Linked DNA regions of Homo sapiens: all the other regions are linked to region 2. Evidence: fine-mapped expression QTL. A gene starts in region 2. Each other region holds a variant in brackets. All regions are shown on one strand. Distances are from middle to middle.

What was found. PIP is the estimated chance that this variant, and not a neighbour inherited with it, causes the effect. A credible set is the group of variants that fine-mapping cannot tell apart.
Region 1: its variant is the best candidate, but not a certain one, in a credible set for the expression of SPNS3 in cerebral cortex (GTEx, PIP 0.62).
Region 3: its variant is the best candidate, but not a certain one, in a credible set for the expression of SPNS3 in whole blood (INTERVAL, PIP 0.84).

Annotation. Positions count from the first base shown.
Region 1 is chr17:4,486,219-4,494,391 of GRCh38, forward strand. It overlaps SPNS3 (SPNS lysolipid transporter 3, sphingosine-1-phosphate (putative)), which reads left to right. Exons shown (of 12, transcript NM_182538.5): 10 at 10-108; 11 at 194-365; 12 at 1,588-1,986. The coding sequence ends at 1,676. It overlaps SPNS2-AS1 (SPNS2 antisense RNA 1), which reads right to left. Exons shown (of 3, transcript XR_001752763.2): 3 at 3,655-3,773. LOC124903899 (a long non-coding RNA gene) reads right to left here and starts at 234. Exons shown (of 2, transcript XR_007065583.1): 1 at 1-234. RefSeq lists enhancers at 225-304, 3,433-4,632, 3,943-4,443. The variant C/G (reference allele first, on the strand shown) is at 3,156.
Region 2 is chr17:4,430,668-4,438,840 of GRCh38, forward strand. SPNS3 (SPNS lysolipid transporter 3, sphingosine-1-phosphate (putative)) reads left to right here and starts at 3,273. Exons shown (of 12, transcript NM_182538.5): 1 at 3,273-3,499. The coding sequence starts at 3,301. RefSeq lists an enhancer at 3,335-3,989.
Region 3 is chr17:4,452,818-4,460,990 of GRCh38, forward strand. It overlaps SPNS3 (SPNS lysolipid transporter 3, sphingosine-1-phosphate (putative)), which reads left to right. Exons shown (of 12, transcript NM_182538.5): 8 at 199-388. Among named protein-coding and RNA genes, the nearest start is that of SPNS3, 23 kb to the left of the region's middle. The variant C/G (reference allele first, on the strand shown) is at 4,574.

The sequences.
Region 1 (8,173 bases), 56 kb after region 2:
GTTTTGCAGTCTGTGGTGGTGCCCAGATGCCGGGGGACGGCAGAGGCACTTCAGATCACGGTGGGCCACATCCTGGGAGACGCTGGCAGCCCCTATCTCACAGGACTTGTAAGACGTGTCTGCGTGTGTGGGGTGGGGAGGGTCTGGGGGCCAGGCTGGTGGGCCTGGCAGACTCATCCCTTCTCCTCCGCAGATCTCTAGTGTCCTGCGGGCCAGGCGCCCTGACTCCTATCTGCAGCGCTTCCGCAGCCTGCAGCAGAGCTTCCTGTGCTGCGCCTTTGTCATCGCCCTGGGGGGCGGCTGCTTCCTGCTGACTGCGCTGTACCTGGAGAGAGACGAGACCCGGGCCTGGCAGCCTGTCACAGGTACCCTACCCATTGCACCAGGCCCGGCTCAGGGCCGGCACCCTAGGGACAGACAGCACTGGCCACCCCCTGAATCCCTGGCCAGTTTGTTTGTTCATTCATCCAGAAATGCTTAGTACACCCCTGCTATGTACCAGGGAAGGTTGCAGATGCTGGGGAGTGAAAGAATGAGGCCAAGTCCAGGCCCCTGTAGAAACTGACACTGTAGTTGGTGAAGACAGACCAGAAACAGAAAAGGTTAAAGATATAGCATGTTCAGGGTGACGAGTGCTATGGAGAGGTATAAAGCAGGAAAGGAAGGAGAAAGGGGCCGGGCGCGGTGGCTCACACCTGTAATCCCAGTACTTGGGGAGGCCAAGGCGGGCGGATTACAAGGTTAGGAGTTCAAGACCAGCCTGGGCAACATGGTGAAGCCCTGTCTCTACTAAAAATATAAAAATTAGCCAGGTGCGGTGGCACACACCTGTAGTCCCAGCTACTCAGGAGGCTGAGGCAGGAGAATCACTTGAACCCGGGAGGCGGAGGCTATAGTGAGCTGAGATCTCGCCACTGCACTCCAGCCTGGGCGACAGCAAGACTGTCTCAAAAAAAAAAAAAAAAAAAAAAAAGGGACAGGTAGGTGCAGGCTGCAAGGATCCCCACTGCACAGGCGAAACTAGAGCAAAGATCTGGAGGAAACGAGGGAGTGAGCCGTTCAGCGACCTGGGGAAAGACGCTTCCGGCAGTGGGGACAATCAATGCAAAGGCCCTGCCATGGGAATGCACCTGATATGTTTGAGGATCAGCAAGGAGGCCAGTGTGGCTGCAGCAGAAGCAAGAGGGACAGTGGTAGGGGTGAGGGATACGGGGCCAGAGCAGGCAGTCCTTGTAAAGACAGTGGCTTTTGCTCAGAGTGAGACGGGAGCTGCTGTGGGGCTTCCAGGAGAGGAGCACCGAGGTGGTCTGATTGATGTTGCCAAAGCATCTCCCTGGCTGCTGTGTTGAGAACAGACTGTAGGAGGGTCAGTGTTGAGGCCGAGAGGCATAGCCGACTCCCCTTCCAGGGGAGAGTGGTGCCTAGACCACGCCAGTGGCATTGAAGGTGATGACAAGGGGTTGGATCTGGAATGTATTCTGCATTTGGGACAGAGAGGATTTCCTGACAGCCCGTGCCCAGGCCCAGGCCTGGTCCCAAAGCACCTTCTGCAACCTTCGGGCAGGCTGAGCATCTTTCCTCCTGCAGGGACCCCAGACAGCAATGATGTGGACAGCAACGACCTGGAGAGACAAGGCCTACTTTCGGGCGCTGGCGCCTCTACAGAGGAGCCCTGAGGTCCCTGCCTACACTCGTCCTGCCTGCAAGCCTCCCGTTGGTCCCCACAGCAGCAGTGCCTCGGTTCCTCTTTGGCTGTCCTCGGGGACTCCGGCTGAGGCACATCTGCCACTTTTGAATTCCCGGCTGGAGAGCTGGCAGGACCCTGTGGCTGGGCTGGGAATGGAGCTGTCAGCACTCTGCGTGGGAGGCCTGGGCCTGTGCCTGCATCCCGCTCAAGGCTGCCCCAGCCTGGGGTCTCCAGCCTGGCTGCTGCTGGGCCCTGAATAAAGAGAGGCCAGTACAAAGCCCATGGATTTTGGGCCTGTAGACAGCCGTGTTATTTATAGCCTCTCGTGCCTCTGCTGGAGGGGAAGTGGGTGAGGACGGGATGGGCAGTCCAGGCCAAGGATGCAGGGCTGTCCTGAAGTGGGGAAGCTGGGGGGCTGGCTCAGCATGGGTCTCTAGGGGTCCGCAGCCTGGACCTCCCACTCTGACCCAGCTTCTCCATTCTGCAAAGTCACAGGCACAGGACACCCTCTACGTGATTCCACTCTTTGTTTTGTTTTGTTTTTGAGATGGAGTTTAGCTCTTGTCCAGGCTGGAGTGCAGTGGCGCAATCTCGGCTCATTGCAACCTCCGCCTCCCAGGTTCAAGAGATTCTTCTGCCTCAGCCTCCTAAGTAGCTGGGATTACAGGCATGTGCCACCACGCCCAACTAATTTTTGTATTTTTAGTAGAGACAGGGTTTCACCATGTTGGCCAGGCTGGTCTTGACCTCCTGACCTTAGGTGATCCGCCAGCCTCGGCCTTCCGAAGTGCTGAGATTATAGGCATGAGCCACCGTGCCCAGCCAACTCCACCCTTTGAACAAAACGTGGGGGCTGAATCTTGCTCTTGGAGATGAGTTTCCACTTGGGTGCTGGGGTGGGGATGTGGCTCCAAGTTCCAGGGAACCACGCAGAGGAACCCACGCCTATACAGACACGGGCGCAGCGGCCCCAGAACCCTGCTGAGGACTTGAGTGGCCGTGCAGGGATCCTCCTGGCCTGCCCAGTTCTGTAGCCCCGGTCTTCCCTGGGTCCACGCTCTGACCCCAGCACAGCGTATGGGGAGGGCTGGCTCTGCGGGGCCCACGCTTGCCACTGGGTTCAGAGCAGCTGGGCTCAGCGGGCCCTGTGGGAGATCGACAGCTTCCAGGCGGGCAGCAGTGGGGAGGCTTGTTCTCATGTTCTTTCCGCCTCCCCTGGTGCCCAGCCAGGCGATCACTTGCTCACTCACCGATGGCCACCTTCGCTGTGCCAGGCTGTGCCTGTCTCCCAGCAGCTGCAGGCAGAGCAACGACCGAGACTCCTGCGCAGCCCCTGATGCTTGCTGCTCTGTCCCTGCCTTCTGTGGGGTGCCCCCCAGCCCTCCCTGTTGGCTGCAACAAGCCCCAGGAGCAGGGCCGCACCACAGCCAGCCCTCCCTGCAGGCTAGCCAGGCCCTTGACCGTGACT[C/G]AATGCTTGGAGCTTATGCAACAGGCAGCCCTTCAAGTTACAAGGTAAAAGATCTGTGAGGATATTTTGTTTTTCCTGAGAAGGAGGCAGCAACTGGGCAGGAGCCAGGATGCCACGGTCCCTCTCAACATTCACTGGCTGTGTGACCTAGGTGGCTCCCTGACTCCCTGGCTGTGTTTGAGAGGTGTGTTGACATGGCTTTCTAGCCTGGGCCTCATGTGATTAGCACAGGCTGGGTCTAGACCCACAGAAGCCCAGCTCCAGGGTCTGAACCTTCCTCCCAACAGCCCCAGGGAGGACCCCTGCAAGGCGAGGCTCCCGGAAAATGAGTGAGGGCCGCCCAAGGGTCAGAACACTCAGCTGGGCACAGCGGCTCACGCCTGTAATCCCAACACTTTGGGAGGCAGAGGCTGATGTATTGCTTGAGGTCAGGAGTTCAAGACCAGCCTGGGCAACATGGTGAAACCCCGTCTCTACCAAAAATACCAAAACATACCTGGGCGTGGTGGCACGCATCTGTGGTCCCAGCTCTGGGAGGCTGAGGTGGGAGGATCGCTTGATCCTGGGGATGGGGGGTGGAGTTCGTCGTGAAGGGAGATGGCACCACTGCACTCCAACCTGAGTGACACAGTGAGACTTTGTCTTAAAAAAAAAAAAAAAAAAGAACACCAGCTGCCACCTCCCCACCCAGAGTCCAGTAGAGGAAGAGCAAGAACCTCGTTCATGCCAACTCTACAAACATGCATTGGTATCGGCGGGTGCCCATCAGGGTGTCCAGCAGTGAATCAGACTCCAGCCCTGCCCTTGGACCTCGCAGCCCACAGCAGGACAGGCAAGTGTGGCACACCTATGGGCAGAGTAAGGGCTTCCGTGCCCCAGAAGCCTTCAAGGAAGTGGCTTTGGAGTTGGTAACAAGGTGGGGGGCAAAGGGAATTCTAGATGCAGGGGATGGACCCACAAAGAGGGGGAGAGTGGGGCAGAAGATTTGCAGTGAGTCATGGAGGGGTGTGGTATGGCCAGAGAGGAGGGTGCGTGTGTCATTGAGCGGGGAGAGGAGGTGAGAGAGGCCATCTGGGATCAGAGGGGCGTCAGATGTAGGTCCAGGAGCTGGGGCTTTAATCCTATAATCCAGGGTAGTTTCTTATGACTCAAGTGCATTCTGATATTTGGGTTGCTGGGCAGGGCAAGGCGGTACTTCCCAAGGCTGAGCCACACGAGGTGCCCAGCTGGGAGTTTATAGGAAGCTATTGTCTAAAGTGGTTTGGGGCAGAGTGGGAGCTCTGGGGCTGGTGGACGCGGCAAGTGACAGAGACCAATATCTCCTCTGCAGCCAACCCAGACTCCCACCTCCTGCCTCTTTGGGGCCAGTCCTGGTGGGTCGAGGTTACGATAACAGCCTGGGGGAACCCAGCCACTCAGGCTGGAGTGGAGTCTGGTAAACAGAACACATCTTCCTCGCCTAAAGGCCCTTGTTGGGTAATCTCAGCCACGAATACTCTGGACTTGTTTGTTGGGAATGTCAAGAGGAGGAAAAATGCTGTTCAGCAGGATGAGTCCTTAAGCCTGACCTGACTCTCTTTATGTGTTAATTGCTCTTTCCAGACATAAGCTGCATTCCAGCTGTCAGGTATTATCCAGGCATGGAGGTATCTCTGTGTGCGTGTGCCTGTACCTGTGTGTGCATCACCATGTTGGCGTGTGGCCACATGGGGGTATGCTAGCTATTGGAACCAATACCAACAGGTATTAGTAAAGCTTTTTTTTTTTTTTTGAGACGGAGTTTTGCTCTTGTTGCCCAGGTTGGAGTGCAATGGTGCAATCTCAGCTCACTGCAACCTCCGCCTCCCGGGTTCAAGCGATTCTCCTTCCTCGGCCTCCCAAGCAGTTGGGATTACAGGCATCCACCACGCCCGGCTAATTTTGTATTTTTAGTAAAGACGGGGTTTCTCCATGTTGGTCAGGCTGGTCTCAAGCTCCCGACCTCAGGGGATCTGCCTGCCTCGGCCTCCCAAAGTGCTGGGATTAAGGCTTGAGCCACCGCACCCAGCCTTAATTTTTCATATTTTTAGTAGAGACAGGGTTTTGCCATGTTGGCCAGGATGGTCTCGAACTCTTGAGCTCAGGCAATCCACCCGCCTCAGCCTCCCAAAGTACTACAATTACAGGTGTGAGCCAATGCGCCTGGCCTAAAAGCTCTTTTTCCACTTTGTCCTGAAGGTTGAGGGGGTTGAACCTGTGTGTCTGGATTCCCACACCCTAACCCTGGCTTGTTGCTCTGCAACATCAAATATTGGTCTGTTTCATTCCCTGAAGTGTTTGACTTTGCTTTGTGCCTGGGTGGGCTTGGGAGGTTGTTTAATCTAATGCAGCCTCTACAGACAAAGCTGGCAGCAGGCAGCTGGAGGTTCCGGGAGCCATGCTTTATCTCAGCACAGACAGGTGTGTGACTGCGTGTGCTCCTGTGTGACCATATCAGTTTGGGTTGTGGGGTTGTATGCAACGGAAACAGACTGACTACCTCTACCAGGCAAAGGATGCATTGAAAGCACATCAGGAACTCATAGAATTGATGAGAAGGTTGGAGATTCAGGAGCCAGGGTTCCTGGGCCATATTATTTTGGGGTCTGTGCCAGAACTCCAGATATTTTATCCCTATTCTTTTGCCACCCTCCTCAAGATTTAAAGCCCTGGGCAAGAGATTCCAGTTGGGTTAGCTTGGATCCTATACCCATGCCTTGGTTTATAGCCGCATTAAGACCAGCAGACCAGTGTGCCGTTAGGAAGAGGAAGGAAGTCTCAGCACCAAAACAAAACAGGAATTAAAACAAGATGACAGGCTGGGCGCGGTGGTTCATGCCTGTAATCCCAGCACTTTGGGATGCCAAGGTAGGTGGATCACCTGAGGTCAGGAGTTCAAGACCAGCCTGGCCAACATGGAGAAACCCCGTCTCTATTAAAAATACAAAAATTAGCTGGGCTTGGTGGTGCGCACCTGTAATCCCAGCTACTCAGGAGGGTGAAGCAGGAGAATCGCTTGAACTCAGGAGGCGGAGGTTGCAGTGAGCTGAAATCGTGCTCCAGCCCGGGCAACAAGAGTGAAACTCCTTCTTGGAAAAAAAAAAAAAAAGAAGAAGAAAGAAAACAAGATGACAGAAAACAAAAACAAAGGTAGCATCCACTACAATATCTCGGGCAGGCCACTGGCCATCTCTGAGGTGCAGCCTCTCCATGGGATGGGGAAGAGGCTGGACTCGATGCCCTTCGGTGGAGTCTTTATTTCTGATAGTCTGCATCCATGATGAAAAGAGACTGAAGCTTCTGTAATGTAGAAAGTGTTAAAAATGTTCAAATGGCAGAACAGGAACTTCTGTGTTAGTGGGGACTCAGAGCCATCTGTTCTGAGCAGGAGAGAGAGGCAGAGACGAAGCGTTCTGAGCAAAGATAGGCTCGGGCTGGGGGAGGGAACGGGGGCCCCAACCAGTCCTCAGCTTGGCAACAGCAAGAGCAGAGAGGAGGTGCCTTCTCCCCACCGTGGGTGGTGACCTGCGGGGAAGGCTAATCAAAGGGTGGAGGCAAACAGCAGGTGGAAGCTAATGGAGGGTGGAGTCAATCAGGAAGAAAATGCCTTTTCCAGAGGAACCAGGAGACGAATCTGGTTTCTGAGTCATTCAGAGCAACAGACGCGTGATGCAAATCAATGTACATTTCCTGAGCACCTGCTAAATGTCATTTACTCATTCAATCAACAAACATTCTTTGAGCACCTCCTCTGTACTGGCTCGTGGAGATGAATCAGAAAGGGTACGGGCCCTCGAGGCTCACGGTCTGTTGGTGAAGGGCGGGGGACAGATTCTTGCACAGACAAAAATCAGCACAGTGTTGGTGTGATGGAAGGATACACAGGTTACTCAATAGCCCAGAGGAGGAAATGGTTGTTCAGGTGGGCCGGGGAAGGCTTCCCGGAGGAAGCTGTTTCTGTGCTGGGTTCCTGAAGGACAAGTGGGAAGAGTGAATAGGCCACACAGGCAGAGCATGCCTCAGTCAGGGTCGGGGTCAGGGGTTGCACGCGGGATGCTCTCCATGGTCCTGAATCATCGCTGTGCTAGTGGGACAAGGGCTTTTTTGTTGATAGGAGGACAGGGGCTATAGAATAGTGCCCCAATTCTTGCCCCTCCCCCAGGCTCCAGGAAGTATTATAACTGTGAGTTCAAGAAGCTCCATGTTCAGTGTGGCAGAGGGTAATTTTGAGAGATGGGCCGTAGGATCTGAGGCTGGAGATTGTCATGGGTTGTGAAAAGTTGTGAAGGCTCTTGGAGATCATTAAGGAATGTAGTTTTTTTTTTTGAAACAGAGTCTCGCTCTGTCACCCAGACTGGAGTGCAGTGGCGCGATCTCGGCTCACTGCAAGCTCCGCCTCCTGGGTTCACGCCATTCTCCTGCCTCAGCCTCCCGAGTAGATGGGACAACAGGCGCCCACCACCACGCCCAGCTAATTTTTTGTATTTTTTAGTAGAGACAGGGTTTCACCATGTTAGCCAGGATTGTCTCGATCTCCTGACCTCGTGATCCGCCCGCCTCGGCTTCCCGAAGTGCTGGGATTACAGGCGTGAGTCACTGCGCCCGGCCAGGAACGTAGACATTTTTAACCCTATAGCCAGTGAAGAGCCTTAGAAAGGTTTTGCTCAAGGTAGTGATGAGGTCCTTTGTGGGATTCAGAAAGTGACTGATAAGCAATATGGAGAAACGACTGGAGGGCCGGCCGAGCACAGTGGCTCACGCCTGTAATCCCAGCACTTTGGGATGCCAAGGTGGGTGGATCACTTGAGGCCAGGAGTTCGAGACCAGCCTGGCCAACATGATGAAACCCCGTCTCTACTAAAAATAAAAAAAATTAGCCGGGCATGGTGGTGCACACCTGTAATCCCAGCTACTCAGGAGGCTGAGGCAGGAGAATTGCTTGAACCCAGGAGGCAGAGGTTGCAGTGAGCCGAGATTGTGCCATTGCACTCCAGCCTGGG
Region 2 (8,173 bases):
AGGCGCCTGCCACCGTGCCTGGATAATTTTTTTGTAGTTTTAGTAGAGACAGGGTTTCACTGTCTTCGCCAGGCTGGTCTTGAACTCCTGACATCGTGATCCACCTGCCTCGGCCTCCCAAAGTGCTGGGATTACAGGTGTGAGCCACTGTACCTGGCCTGTTTTCAGTTCTTTTGGATATATACCTAGGATTGGAATTGCAGGGCCATATGGTAATTTTATGTTTAACCTTTGGAGGAACTGCCAAACTTTGTTCCACTGCGGCTGCCTTACTCCACATTCCCAGCAATGCATGAGGCTTTCAATCTCTCCACCAACATTTGTTATTTCCTCTCTCTCTCTTTTTAAAATTATAGCCGTCTTAGTGGGTACGAACTGATATCTTATGGTGGCTTCAATCTGCCATTTTCCTAATGACTTGTGATGTTGAACATTTTTCTTTCTTTTTTTTTTTTTCCCCCGAGATGAAGTCTCGCTCTGTCACCCAGGCTAGAGTGCAGTGGTGTGATCTCAGCTCACCGCAACCTCTGCCACCCGGGTTCAAGCAGTTCTCCTGCCTCAGCCTCCTAAATAGCTGGGATTACAGACACATGCCACCACGCCCAGCTAATTTTTGTATTTTTAGTAGATATGGAGTTTCACTATGTTGGCCAGGCTGGTCTCGAACTCCCAACCTTGTGATCCACCCACCTGAGCCTCCTAAAGTGCTGGGATTGCAGGCGTGAGCTACTGTGCCCAGCCTGAACATCTTTTTATGTGCTTGTCGGTCACCTGTATATCTTCAGAGAAATGTCTGTTCAACTCCTTGGCCCATTTTTGTCCCCCTGATGTTTTTTTTCTTTAGAGATGGGATCTCACTCTGTTGCCCAAGCTGGAGTACAGTGGCATGATTATAGCTCACTGTGGCCTCAACCTCCCAGGCTTAAGTGATCCTTCCACCTCAGCCTCCAGAGTAGCTGGGACTACAGGTCCATGCCACTATGCCCGGCTCTTCACCCATTTTTAAATTGGTTTGTCATTTTATGCTTTAACTTTTTGTTTAGATATAATTTATAACTTATAGAAAGTTTATCATATAGCGTAAAGAAACTCTTATAATCTTTACCCAGATTCATCTATTATTAATATTTGCCCCATTTGTTTTCTTACTATACATATCTAATATTTTTTCCTGAACCGTTTGAGAATGAGTGGCATAAATCATGGCCCTGTACCTCTAGATACTTCAGATAAGGATATTTACTTATTTACTTACATAACCATAGTTCACAGATGCTGATATGCTATTTCTTCCTGATCCAGTTTTATCAGTTGATCCAGTACAGGAGCGAGGTTGGGATCCTGTACTGCTCTTAATTGTCTTATTGTCTTGTCTCTCTTTTTTTTTTTTTTTTTTTTGAGACGGAGTCTTGTTCTGTCACCCAGGCTAGAGTGCAGTGGCACGATCTTGGCTCACTGCAACCTCTGCCTCCCGGGTTCACATGATTCTCCTGCCTCAGCCTCCTGAGTAGCTGGGACTACAGGTGCACACCACCACACCCAGCTACTTTTTTGTGTATTTTTAGTAGAGACAGGGTTTCACTATGTTGGCCAGACTGGTCTCGAACTCCTGACCTCGTGATCCGCCCGCCTGGGCCTCCCAAAGTGCTGGGATTACAGGCATGAGCCACCGCGCCTGGCCTATCTTGTCTCTTTGTTGCTTTTAATCCAAAACAGTCCCTCAGAATATTTTTTTTTTTTCGAGACAGAGTTTTGCTCTTGTTGCCCAGGCTGGAGTGTAATGGCGTGATCTTGGCTCACCACAACCTGTGCCTCCCGGGTTCAAGCAATTCTCCTGCCTCAGCCTCCCGAGTAGCTGAGATTACAGGCACCTGCCACCATGCCTAGTTAGTTTTGTATTTTTAGTAGAGACGGGGTTTCTCCACATTGGTCAGGCTGATCTTGAACTCCCGACCTCAGGTGATCCACCTGCCTCGGCCTCCCAAAGTGCTGGGATAACAAGCGTGAGCCACCACGCCTAGCTCCCTCAGTCTTTCTTAGTCTTTCATGACTCTGACATTTTTCAATATACAGTCCCTTTAAAGAAATAGTGTTTCTCAATTTGGGCTTGTCTGATGTTTTTTCATTTTAAAAATTAAAAAAAAAATTTTTTTTTTTGAGTTGGGGTCTTGCTTTGTCACCCAGCCTGGAGTGCAGTGGCACGAACATGGCTCACTGCAGCCTCGACTTCCCAGGCTAAGGCGATCCTTCCTACCTCAGCCTCCCAAGTAGCTGGGACTGTGGACGCACACCACTACACCCGGCTATTTTTTTTTAAAATTTTTTATTTTTTTGGTATTTTTGTAGCAATGGGGTTTCACCATGTTGCCCAGGCTGGTCACAAACTTCTGGGCTTGGATGATCCTCCTGTCTTGGCCTCCCAGTGTTAGGATTACAGGTGCGAGCCACCGCGTCTGGCTGATGTCTTCTCATGATGAGATTCCGGTTGTGCCTTCCTGGCTGGAATGCCACATAGATGATGCTGTGACCTGCGAAGACCTTCACATCTGGAGGCACACGACACCCTCCTGCCTCTCACAGGTGATTTATTTTAACCCCTTGGTCAAGATGTCTGATTCCTCTACTGTATAGTTACTCTTTTTCCTTTTGTTACTAATAAGCAATCTATCAAGAGATGCTTCGTGACCGTGCTGACACCCTCCCCCCTCACTGAAGTCTTCCCCCCAGATTTAGCCCCCACTGATGAGTTTTGCACACAGGCTGTCTTCTTGTAGGCAGCCCCCTCTGCTACCTTTGTTTTTCCGGGAAGGACCTTAGATCCTGGGTAGGTGCTCATCCTGCCTGGCAGTCGAGTGCAATGCTGCTGTCCTGGCCAATGCCCAGCCTTCCTCATTTGCCCCGGCTTCAAGGCATTGGTTCACAGTCCCGTACGGGCAGCTAGACCATCTCACAGCAAGCAGCACTCTGGGAGGCTCATCTCATTTCCTGCCCTGGAAGCTTCCCTTCCTCACTGCAGCCACTGAAGCTGCAGGCTAGATCAAGGGGACCACAGAGTTGTCCAGTCCCCAGGGTGGGGGTGCCAGGAGCCCTTGTCCTCCGTAGCAGGTCTCAGAGGCTGACGATGGGGAAATCGCACTGGTGAAGCTGCCGTGGGGTCAGGAGGAACCTGCGATAAGACGCCCAACAGTTAGGGCAGGTGCTTTGAGGTTTGGAGCCTGGGACCCCACAGGAAGTGACTTCGTGCTGAGCTAATGTTGCTTCATCCTGGCGCCAGTCTCAGGCCAAGAGCTGCAGGCTGGCATGGCTGGGGGGATGTCAGCGGAGTGCCCTGAGCCTGGGCCAGGAGGTCTGCAGGGCCAGTCCCCAGGGCCAGGCAGGCAGTGTCCCCCTCCCATCACGCCCACCTCCTGGAGCCTGCCCCCGTGGAGGGCCTACGTGGCTGCCGCCGTCCTCTGCTACATCAACCTCCTGAATTACATGAACTGGTTCATCATTGCAGGTGAGGAGGGGATGGCTACCCTGGGCAGTACCTGCTGCTGTGCCCACCAGCCAGGGGCTGCAGATCCATGGTGGCCTTCCAGCCATCACCCATCTTTCTGCTCCTGGGCCCATCTCTGGTGTTCTCACCTCTAGAGGTGGTTTTCAGCTGTGCTCGAATCGGGGAGGACCAACTGATGTTCCCAATCCAGCCTCAACTAAGAAGGGACACAGGCTGGGCATGGTGGCTCCCGCTTGTAATTCCAGCACTTTGGGAGGCTGAGGCAGGAAGATTGCTTGAGCCCAGGAGTTTGAGACCAACCTGGACAACATAGTGAGACTCTGTCTCTATTTATTTATTTTTTTTTTTGAGACAGAGTCTCGCTCTGTCGCCCAGGCTGGAGTGTAGTGGCGCAATCTCAGCTCACTGCAACCTCTGTCTCCCAGGTTCAAGTGATTCTCCTGCCTCAGCCTCCCGAGTAGCTGGGATTACAGGCGTGCACCACCACATCCGGCTAATTTTTGTATTTTGAGTAGAGGAGGAGTAGGGACGGGGTTTTACCATGCTAGTCAGGCTGGTCTCGAACTCCTGACCTCAGGTGATCCACCCGCCTCGGCCTCCCAAAGTGCTGGGATTACAGGCATGAGCCACCGTGCCCGGCCTTTTTTTTTTTTCTTGAGACAGAGTCTCAATCTGTTGCCCAGGCTGGAGTGCAGTGGCGCGATCTCGGCTCACTGCAACTTCTGCCTCCCAGGTTCAAGCGATTCCTATCTCAGCCTCCCGAGTAGCTGGGACTACAGGCGCATACCACCATGCCAGGCTAGTTTTTGTATTTTTAGTAGAGACGGGGTTTTGCCGTGTATGCCAGGCTGTCTCGAACTCCAGACCTCAGGTGATCCGCCTGCCTCGGCCTCCCAAAGTGTTGGGATTATAGGCATGAGCCCCTGCGCCCAGCCGAAACTCTGTCTCTATTTAAAAAATTAAAAATATTTTAGGGCTGGGTGCGGTGGCTCAGGCCTGTAATCCCAGCACTGTGGGAGGCCAAGGTGGGCGGATCACTTGAAGTGAGGACTTTGTGACCAGCCTGGGCAACATGGTGAAACCCCGTCTCTACTAAAACTACAAAAATTAGCCGAGCATGGTAGCGGGCACCTGTAATCTCAGCTACTGGGGAGGCTGAGGCAGAGAATTGCTTGAACCTGGGAGGTGGATGTTGCAGTGAGCCGAGATCCCACCATTGAGCCAAGATCCCACCATTGCACTCCAGTCTGGGCGACAGAGCAAGGCTCTGTCTCAAAAAAAAAAAAATAAAAAATAAAAAATAAATAAATAAATAAATATTTTTTAAAAATTAAGGGAGGGCACAGTGGGGGTGGGGCCAGAGACATAATGAGGGGTGGGTGGGTGAGGACAGCAGGCAGGACTTCCAGGCAGAGGCCCCCAGGTTCTAGGTGGAGGACAGGGTAGCCTGGGCCAGACAAGAATAGCTCCTGCTGGCTGTGTTTCTAGGACAACAGGCTGCTCGCAAACCTCACACGTCCTGCCTTCCTTCTTGCAGGCTTCAGGGCTCAACCTGCTCTGTCTTCTGTCACTCATTCACTAACTCACTCACTCATTCATTCATTCAAGACTGATCAGGGGCCAGGCGTGGTGGCTCACGCCTGTAATCCCAGCTACTCGGGAGGCTGAGGCAGGACAGTCGCTTGAACCCGGGAGGCGGAGGTTGCGGTGAGCTGAGATCGTGCCACTGCACTCCAGCCTGGGCGACAGAGCGAGACTCCGTCTCAAACAAAGACAACAACAATAACAACAGCTGATTGAGGCTCCACTTGCTCTTCTCTTCTTGTCATTCATTCATTCAAGACCGGCTGAGCACTAACTGTGGGCAGGACCCCCTGCTGGCTGCTGTGGACCCAGGGAGGAAATCGGACTTGGAGTTCCTGAACTCAGGAATGACCATCTCATGGGGCAGAGATAGAGGCTGGTTGATGGCAGTCCTGCGAGGCGGAGAGGTGCGGCCAGACAAGGGGGAGGCACAGGCCGGGCTGGGAGCTCAGGAGGGTGCCTGCAGCTGCCAGGCATCTCTGAGACCTGGGCATCGATCTGTCAGTTACCAGCTCAGCATGCCAGAGAGTGGCTATGGAATCATGAAACTCTAGGGGCTGCAGAGCCATCCCCAGACCTGGTCATCGTCTTTGAGGAGCTCAGAGGTCAGGAGCTTCTCCTCACATGAGGTCAGGAGTTCGAGACCAGCCTGGGTAACATAGAAAAACCTTGTCTCTACAAAAAATTTAAAAAATTAGCCAGGGACAGTGATGTCTTCAGCCTCTCGGGAGGCTGAAGCAGGAGGATTGCTTGAGGCTGAAGCAGGAGGATTGCTTGAGGCTGAAGCGGGAGGATTGCTTGAGGCTGCGGTGAGCCCTCTAGCCTGAGTGACAGAGCAAGATCTTATCTAAACCCCTAAAGACAAAAAGCCAAAACAAAGCAAAACAAAACACATGAAACAAAAAACCCCAAAGGGGTGTATGGGGTGAGAACAGAGCTTCTTGGGTGCCAGACTGGGAGCTTGGACTTTCTGCCTTGGGCAATGGGGAGCCATATAATTGGATTTGAGGCCCTGATGGAGGCAAAATGAGCCAGGGAGTCAGTTCAGAGGCTGCTGTAGTGGATCAGGCCAAAGCTGAGGAGGCCTGAGTTGGAGTGTGGGCCAAGGGCACGCAAAGGCGAGAAGGGGCAAGAGGTGGATGGGAGCCAGGAATCACCAGTGTGGAGCTCTCTGAACCCACGAGCCTGGGGACCCGCTATCTCTGCCGCTAGCCCTGGAGGTCCCTGGCTGGGCCCTAAGACCCTGAGTCTTGCCTGTCCAGGTCCCTTCTCCATCAGCACTTCCTCTGTATGTGCAAGAAAGGGGGCTGTGGTTACTGTGGGGATAGAGACCTGGAGAAGTGAAACCGTGCTGAGCATCTGGGAACTGGTGGGGGTAAACAGCTAAAATGTTCTTGCAGGAAACAGCTCTTATGGGGCCAGGGTGGTAGGCTACAGATGAAAGCAAGGGTGGGTGCACGCTTGGCTCTGGATCACCTCTAGAGTACCATGGGGCTGAGAGGAGCCCAGGAGGAGAGAAAACAAGGGGATGAGTCCTCATTCCTGAAAATGGAAGATGGGCACAATTTGGAGCATTTTCGTTTAGCTATTTATTTTGCTTACCTGTGTTGTCTCCTTTTTTTCTTTCCAATGACTGTCTTCTTTGTGTATTTAAAATAATAAAAGGGGGACTTTGAGAGGCCGAGGCAGGTGGATCACCTGAGATCAGGAGTTCGAGACCAGACTGGCCAAAATGGTGAAACCCCGTCTCTACTAAAAATACAAAAATTAGCCAGGCGTGATGGCGGGCACCTGTAATCCCAGCTACTTGGGAGGCCGAGGCAGGAAAATTGCCTGAACCCAGGAGGCAGAGGTTGCAGTGAGCTGAGATCGTGTCACTGCACTTCAGCCTGGATGAAATAGTGAGATTCAGTCTCAAAAATAAATAAATAAAATAAAAATAAAAAACAAAATATTAAAAGGGGAAAAAGACATAACAGTTTGTATGCCAGGTTGCAGTGGCAATTGGGGACAAATTAAATGTCTAAACAAAGATTTCTTTTTTTTTTTTTTTGGAGACGGAGTCTCACTCTGTCGCCCAGGCTGGAGTGCAGTGGCATGATCTCAGCTCACTGCAACCTCCGCCTCCCAGGTTCAAGCGATTCTCCTGCCTCAGCCTCCTGAGTAGCTGGGACTACAGGCCTGTGCCACAACATCTGGCTAATTTTTTGTATTTTTAAATAGAGATGGGATTTCACTGTGTTAGCCACGATGGTCTTGATCTCCTGACCTCAAGATCTGCCGGCCTCGGCCTCCCAAAGTGCTGGGATTACAGGCGTGAGCCACCACGTCCCTCCCTGAGCAAGGATTTTTTGCTTTGCTCCTCTGATCCCTTGATCTTCATGTGCATGGGGCAGCTCTTAGAGGTGTGCACGCAGGGCTTTCTTGGTGTGGGTGTTTCTGCGGGGACCCACTTGGGGGCTTCTGCTCCCCTTCTGTGGTTCTGGGTGTGTGGACAGGCTGCCTCTGGCTGAGATTTGAGCCCCAGCTCCCCCAGCTTCAGACGGGCAACCTTGGGCCGCTAAAGCCTCTGTTTCCTCATCTGTAGAATGGGGGCAATGACAGTCCCCCTCTTTTAGGATGACAACTGCGAGTGTACAGCTCAGGGCCTGGCTGTCAGTCACCTCCTGACTGATGAAAGTGAGGATTGTTCTTCTTCATAATAATGACAGGGCCAGAGCCGCATGGCTCACGTGAGCAGGTGCTGCAGACCCCGACCCTTTCTAGGACACCAAGAGGCTATCAGGAAACAGACCCTGGTGTCTGGGAGACCCACTTTCTCTCTCTACATTAGGCTGGGTGCCCACTGCTGTGCCTCTGGAAGAACAGGCTTGTGTGTGCACATGCGTGCAAGCCAGGACACGTTCGTCTTTTTATGTACATGTTCACCTATGCATTTCCAGTGTTTGTGCATGAGCGAGGCCACTGTGCTGTACAGCTCCAGGGACTTCCGTTTACACAGTGGCCTAAGTAAAGGGCTGTGCACTGAGCAGCGACAGGGGGCTGCCGCTCCTCTGACTGCAGTGTGGATGGCAGCCCTGAGCCTGTGCA
Region 3 (8,173 bases), 22 kb after region 2:
GGGACATTGGTCCCTGGGAGTATCAGTGAGGAGGGTGGGTAAGGTTCTGGGTCAGGTCAGGGGCCCACAGCCATATTCCCTGTAGACACCAGATCATGCACTTGAGCCGAGGGGCTAGACCTGGGGCTGGGAGCAGGATAAGAGTCCCTATGCTAAGCTCACCCAGCTGACCAACCCTTCTGTGCTCTTCCCCATCAGCCTGATTTTTGGGGCACTGACCATCATGACCGGCGTCATTGGGGTCATCTTGGGGGCAGAAGCTGCGAGGAGGTACAAGAAAGTCATTCCAGGAGCTGAGCCCCTCATCTGCGCCTCCAGCCTGCTTGCCACAGCCCCCTGCCTCTACCTGGCTCTCGTCCTGGCCCCGACCACCCTGCTGGCCTCCTATGTAAGTGAGAGCCTCTATGGAGGTGGGGACAGGGTTGGGGGGCGAGGAACTCCTGTTTCCACAGGCTCATGCTGCGCCCGGCCTTTATGTACAATTATGTTGATCACTCCTTCTGAGTAGAGCTTGTTATCCCCATTTTACAGATCAGTAAAGAGAAGCTTGGCTGGACGCGGTGGCTCATGTCTGTAATCCTAGCACTTTGGGAGGTCAAGGCCGGCCTGGCCAATATGGTGAAACCCTGTCTCTACTAAAAATACAAAAAATTAGCTGGGCATGGTGGCAGGCACCTATAATCCCAGCTGCTTGGGAGGCTGAGGCAGGAGAATCGCTTGAACGCGGGAGGTGGAGGTTGCAGTGAGCTGAGATTGCGCCACTGCACTCCAGCCTGGGCAATGGAGCAAGACTCCATCTTGGGGGAAAAAAACAGAGAGAGAAGCTTACCAGGAGTTCCACAGTGAAGAAGGGGCAGAACTGGGATTTGAGCCTGAGCTTTTCTGACTGTAAAAGGTGTCCTCTGAGCATTGGGTTAATGTGTTAATTTGAGAAAATAGGACTCATTTATTGCCAGGGCATATTGTGGGCCCAAGAAGAAATAGAGCAATTCTCCCCAGGTTACAGAGGAGGGAAGCAAGGCCCAGATTGGTTATGGCCAATGTGGACGCTGCTTTAAGGGCAATAATCATGGTAATATCAAGTGTTCCAAATCCACATCCCATCACACCCCTTCATGGGCCTCACACTCTGGCTGTGCCAGCCGTGTGGGCACACACACTTCCCAGACTTTGCACGCGTCCATTTCTTCCACCAAGAACACCAGTTCCTCTTTTGTGCATCCTGAAATCCTCCTTCTGCAAGACTCAACTCAAAGTCCGCTTCCTCCAAAAGCCTTCCCCTACCACTCTATCCTCACACCAGAATTCACGTTCCCACTTGGGCTCAGCACCTGTTTGGGTCCCATGAGGCACCAAGGTTTATGGGGCCTGTCCACAGACAGGGAGCCCAAAGGGCAGGACCAGAGCCAGAGGGTCCCTGTGTGCAGCCGTGTCCCTGGCTCCCCAAAGCCCCAGCCCTGCCTGTCCCCCAACATGGGAAAGGGCTACTGCTTCTGGGAAGATGACGCCAGCCCAGCCACAAGCAGAGGGGCTAGACCTCTCCTCCTTTCCCAGCTCCATGGCCCTGGGCCCTGTGGCTGCAGACACAGATGCGCTTGCACATGTTAACCAGGTTTACTGAGCAGACTGGACTTTGGAAAAGTAAACCAGCCACAACTTTATTGTCCTCACACTAGTTTGGCTGCATCTCCTACCCATGGCCAGAGCCCATTGCTTCTCTAGTCACACACATGAACTAAACAGTCTGGTCCCACTGAAATCAAAACAACTTTAGCCCTGCTTCCAAATAAAGCTTTTTTTTTTTTTTTTTTTTTTTTGAGACAGAGTCTTGCTCTGTCGCCCAGGCTGGAGTGCAGTGGCACGATCTTGGCTCACTGCAACCAACCTCCACCTCCTGGGTTCAAGTGATTCTCCTGACTCAGTCTCCCAAGTAGCTGGGATTACAGGCACACACCACCAAGCCCGGCTAATTTTTTTGTGTATTTTTAGTAGAGACGGGGTTTCACTATGTTGGCCAGGCTGGTCTTGAACTCCTGACCTCGTGATCCACCCACCTCAGCCTCCCAAAGTGCTGAGATTACAGTCGTGAGCCACTGCACCCAGCCTTTTTTTTTGAGACTGAGTCTCACCCTGTTGCCCAGGCTGGAGTGCGGTGGCGCGATCTCAGCTCACGGTAACCTCCGCCTCCTGGGTTCAAGCGATTCTCCTGCCTTAGCCTCCCAAGTAGCTGGGATTACATGTGTGAGCCACCACGCCCAGCTAATTTTTGTATTTTTAATAGAGATGGGGTTTCGCCACATTGGCCAGGCTGGTCTCAAACTCCTGACCTCAGGCGATCCGCCTGTCTCGGCCTCCCAAAGTGCTGGGATTACAGGTGTGAGCCATCACGCCCAGCCCCAAACAAAGCTTCTATCCGGACCAGAAAACTGCCTTGGGAAGAGGCAGGGCTGTCGTCCGGTTTTGTTCTCCTTGTTCCATCTTCTACCCCAACATCCCTGACATCTCCCCTCCCCTTGCGATTCTGTCCTCTCCAGAGATGAGCAGGCAAGGAAGGATGACTGAGAACAGGCCAAGTATTGCCTGTGTCCGGAGCTGTTTCTGCTGACTGTCGGTGCCCCACATGTGGCAGATGCCCAGAGGCGGGGTGTGGGGGGTACTTTGTGGGCGTTTTGGGGTCTCTGGCCCTGGTTTTTGCTTTGCCCAATTCCTTGATGCAAGGGTTGCCTTTCCAGCCAGGCTGTCTTGCCCCGGTAGGCAATCCTGCAAGGGGCCCCCTCTCATGAGCACCGTGTCTCCCTCCACGGTGTCCATCTGAGCCCTGTAGGATGTCGGGAAGGGAGGCCTCCCCCACTGCCGCCCTCTCCCCTCCCACGACACTGCAGACTACTCCATCTGGCATCCCCACCCACAGACTTCCCTTGGGGGAGTCAGGGCCCAGGGTCCATTCTCCCCGAATGCCAGATGACATGCATCTGAGTGTCCTAAAGACGTCTTCTATGCACGCCCCTCAGGCTGTCCTGGTATAGGAGGCTCAGCATTTAGCCAGCGTCCAGTCAGGGAGAAAAGGCCAGCTTCCTTCCTGGCAAGCACTGCCCTCTGTGGGGGGGGGGTGAGTGTCACCTGAAGCCCCTCACTCAGCTTAAGAGTAGAACTCTTTATTCTTTATTTATTAACTTTTTTAGAGATGGGGGCTCTCACTATGTTGCTCAGGCTGGTCTTGAACTCCTGGGCTCCAGCAATCCTCTTGCCTCAGCCTCCTGAACAACTGGGACTACAGGCGTGCACCACCACACCAGGCTAATTTTTGTATTTTTAGTAGAGATGGGGTTTTGCCATGTTGCCCAGCCTGGTCTCGAACCCCTGTCCTCAAGTGATCTGCCCATCTCAGCCTCCCAAAGTGCTGGGATTACAGGCATGAGCCACCGCGCCTGGTCAAGAGCAGAACTCTTTCAATAAATCCTCCCCTGAGCATGACTTCCACGCAAGCAGTGGGGGGCCAAATGGGATAGCTCTGTTCTCTCGCCGAGTCCTGAAGGTGTGCTGGCACCTCTCTTGAGATGTGGGCACTGCTCATCCCTTGTTCTCAGCCTTGGGTCTCTGCAGAAATTCCTGAAGACTAGAAAGTCTTGTCATTCTCTTCTGCACGTGCTCTTATTTAGTCCTCACGACTGACACTTTTGTGGGGAAGGTTTTTTCTTTTCATATTTTATTTTATTTTATTTTTTTGAGACGGAGTCTCTCTCTATTGCCCAGGCTGGAGTACAGTGGCACGATCTAGACTCACTGCAACCTCTACCTTTCAGGTTCAAGCAATTCTCCTGCCTCAGCCTCCCCAGCAGCTGGGATTATAGGGGCATGCCACTAATTGTTGTGTTTTTTGGTTTTTGTTTTTGTGTTTTTTTTGGTTTTTTTTTTGAGACAGGGTCTCACTCTGTCGCCCAGGCTGGAGTGCAGTGGAGCGATCTCAGCTCACTGCAACCTCTGCCTCCCAGGTTCAAGTGATTCTCCTGTCTCAGCCTCCTGAGTAGCTGGGATTACAGGCCCATGCCACCACACCCAGCTAATTTTTGTATTTTTGGTAGAGATGGTGTTTCACCATTTTGACCAGGCTGGTCTCAAACTCCTGACTTCAAGTGATCTGCCTACCTCGGCCTCCCAAGGTGCTGGGATTACAGGCATGATCCACCACGCCCAGCCTGGAAGGTTTTTTCTTATGCCATTTGACAGGTTGGAAAACTGAAGCCCACAGATAGAATCAGGTAAATAGTGGGACAGACAAAACTCCAACACCTGGCTGGGTGCAGTGGCTGACGTCTGGAATCCCAGTATTTTGGGAGGCCAAAGTGAGAGGATCACTTGAGCTCAGGAGTTAGAGACCAGCCTGGACAATGTAGCAAGACCCTGTCTCTACAGAAAATTAAAAAATTAGTTGGACATGGTGGCACATGCCTGTAGTCCCAGCTACTGGGGAGGCTGAGGCTGGAGAATTGTTTGAGCCCCAGTGATAGAGGCTGCAGTGAGCTCTGATCATGCCACTGCACTCCAGCCTGGGTGACAGAGTAGGACCCTGTCT[C/G]AAAACAAACAAACAAACAATCAACCTCCAACTTGGCCGTGACGCCTCCAAAGTCTGTGTCCTTCATAGTGCACTGATCCAGAAACAGCGGGGCACACCCCAGGCACTAGTAAATCCCTTAATGCTTATTGACTGAGGGAGGGGACCATCACTTCTGGCTGGTGGGAGCTGATGGGGGCTGGTGGGGCCTGACCTCACAGGGAGGCTGGGGCCCAGGCAGATGGAGGCCCCATCAAAGCTGTCCCTGTACCAGCCAGCTGGGGCTGGGGGCCCCCTGCCAGCCCTGCTTCTGCCACTGTCTTGGTTGGTTCTGGGAGGTGCTCCTTGGCTGTGTTTTGGGGACACAGCTGCCCCCCCCTCACCCCCTGCACCCTGCAGCCTGGCGCATCTCTAGAGCTGGTTGTCTCATCCAGAAATGACATTGCGTCTTGGCCGCCAAAGCCAGCTGGAGAAACTCTTCTTTAGGCCTGCCCTGGGGGTTGGGGCTGAGGGGCAGAAAGGCGGGCAGGGCCAGAGTGCATCCCTCCTCTGGCGCTGGGAAGCTGCTGGGTCTGGCATGGTACCCACCGATGCTGAGCCTCTGCGGCCAGAACTCTAACCCTCAGAGGTGATGCCATCCCGCCCCCACCCCTTGGCTCTGTCTGTGCCTCCGTAGAATGCTCGGATGTTCTGACCTGAGATTCAGGCTCCAGTTCTTCCTTCCCAACAACTGTCAGTCACAAAGCCCTTGACCTCTCCCAGGCCTACCCTCCTCTCCGTCCTCTCTGCCCTTCCCTGGCTCATGCCTTGCTGTCTTTCTCCAGAACTGTTCTAGAAGCCACCTTCCTGGTCTCCGTGTCTTCCTGCTCACCCACTACAGTCTGTTCTTCTGTTCTTCACACACTGCCAGAGTGAGCTAGCTAGCTTGCTTGCTTTTTCTTTCTTTTCTTTTCTTTTCTTTCCCTCCCTCCCTCTCTCCCTTCCTCTCCCTCTCTCTCTCCCTCCCTCCCTTTCTTTCTTCTTTCTTTCTTTCTTTCCATTTTCTTTTTCTTCTTTCTTTCCTTCCTCCCTCCCTCCCTTCTTTCTTCTTTCTTTCTTTCCATTTTCTTTCTTTTCTTCTTTCTTTCTTTCTTTCTTCCCTTCCTCCCTCCCACCCGCCTTCCTTCCTTCCTTCCTTTCCTTCCTTTCTTCCTTCCCTCCTTTCTTTCTTCCTTCCCTCCTTTCTTTCTTTCTTTCTTTCTTTCTTTCTTTCTTTCTTTCTTTCTTTCTTTCTTTCTTTCCTTCCTTCTTTCTTTCTTTCTTTTCTTTCTCTTTTCCTTCCCTTCCTTCCTTCCAGACAGGGTCTCCCTGTGTTGCCCAGGCTGGTCTTGAACTCCTGGCCTCAAGTGATCCTGCCCATGCTGCCTCCCGAGTAGCTGGAATTCAGGCATGTGTCACTGTGCCTGGCTGACAGAGTGAGCTTTCTGACACCACCTCCCTTCCCTGCTCAAAAGCCTCGCATGGCTCCCTGGTGCCTGTGGAACTAGGCCCAGCCCCTTATCCCGGCATTTAAAGCCCCTCATGAACTTCTCCAATAACCTTAGGAGCCTTATTCCTCCACTGAAGTCCTGCCACGCAGGTCCCCTCTTGATTCCCTAGTCATTCCTCCCCTCTCCCTCTCTTTCCCCATCCTCACTCCCTTCTCCATGTGTCCAGAGCATTCTAGGCCTTCAAGGGCCAGCTTACCACCGTCTCTCCATGGATTCCTCCCTGGTTGCTGGGCCTGACCCTCTCTCCCTTAGTACGCCCAGTGTTGTCGTCCTGGGGTCTCAGTTACGTACGTTCTGACTCCTCTCCCAGCCCTGTCTGTGAGTTTAGCAGGGTCCAGGTCTGGTTCTAGTCTTTCTCTGCACTCCAGCTTGAAGCACAGTGTCAGGCACGTGGACAGGTGGGTGAGGTAAGTCACTGCTGGCTGAGTGAAGAGTCGAGTGACAAACTGTTTGTATTCATTTGTTTATTCAACCAATATTTATTGATTGTCAATTAAGTGGCATACTAGTTTAAATGCTGTAGATATAGGCAGCTGGGTGCGGTGCTTCATACATGTAACCCCAGCACTTTGGGAGGCCGAGGCAGGCGGATCACCTGAGGTCAGGAGTTCAAGACCAGCCTGGGCAACACGGCAAAACCCTGTCTCTACTAAAAATACAAAAAATTAGCTGGGCATGGTGGTGTGTGCCTGTGGTCTCAGCTACTGGGGAGGCTGAGGCAGGAGAATCGCTTGAACCCAGAAGGTGGAGGTTGCGGTGAGCTGAGATTGCGCCATTGCACTCCAGCCTGGGCGACAGAGCGAGACTCCATGTCTAAATAAATAAATAAATAAACCAATGCCGTAGATATAGCAGTGAATAAAACAGACAAAAATGTCTCTGTCCTGAGAGAACTTACATTCTAGTTGAGGGAGATAGATAACAAACAAGATATATAAGTATTGTGAATTTTATTGTAAAATTCAGAGTATTTCAGATAATAATAAAGGCTTAGGAGAGAAGTATTGTTGGGAAGGAAATAGGGAGAGTGTGAGTATTGGGAGGAGAGGGTAGCAATTTTTTGTAGGGTGGCCAGAGAGACCTCTCTGAGAAGGTAGTTGTTGAATAAAGACCTGTAGGGGGTGAAGTAGTGAATTATGTGGATATTCGGGGGAACAGTGTTCCAGGTAGAGGGAACAGCAACTGTGAAGGCCCTGAGTCAGGAGTGTACCCGATGGGTTTGAATAACAACAAGGCGGCTACTGTGATTAGTGCAGAGAGAGAAGTGGGAGAGGGACGTGAGGACAGAGAGATGATGGGTGCCAGATCATGTAGGATGTTGTGGGCATTGGGTGAGATGGAGTTTTGTTCTAAGAAGTGAGACATCTGGCTTTTGTCTTCCGCATCTATTGAAATTATCATGTAGTTTTGTCCTTTATTCAATTTCTACAGTTTATTACATTGACTGATATTTATATGTTTAACCAACCTTGCATTCCTGGGATATGTTTGCCATGGTCATTGTGGGTAATCATTTTTATGTATTGCTGGATTTTTTTTTTTTTTTTTTTTGAGACAGAGTCTCACTCTGTGGCCCAGGCTGGAGTGCAGTGGCGTGATCTCGGCTCACTGCAAGCTCTGCCGCCCGGGTTCACACCATTCTCCTGCCTCAGCCTCCCGAGTAGCTGGGACTACAGGCGCCTGCTACCACGCCTGGCTAATTTTTTGTATTTTTTTTTTTTTTTTAGTAGAGACGGGGTTTCACCTTGTTAGCCAGGATTGTCTCGATCTCCTGACCTTGTGATACACCTGCCTCAACCTCCGAAAGTGCTGGGATTACAGGTGTGAGCCACCGTGCCTGGCTGAATTGCTGGATTTGAGTTTGTAGTATTTTGTTGAGGATTTTTGCACGTACATTCATAAGAGATATTGGTCTGCAGTTTTCTTGTGGTGTCTTCATCTGGTTTTGGTATCAGGGTAGTGGCCTTGTAATGAGTTGGCAAGTGTTCCTTCCTCTTCTGTTTTTTGGAAGACTTCATGAAGAATTTGTTAATTTATCTTTAAACATTTGGAAGAAGTCACCAGCGAAGCCATCTGGTTCTGGGCTTCTGTT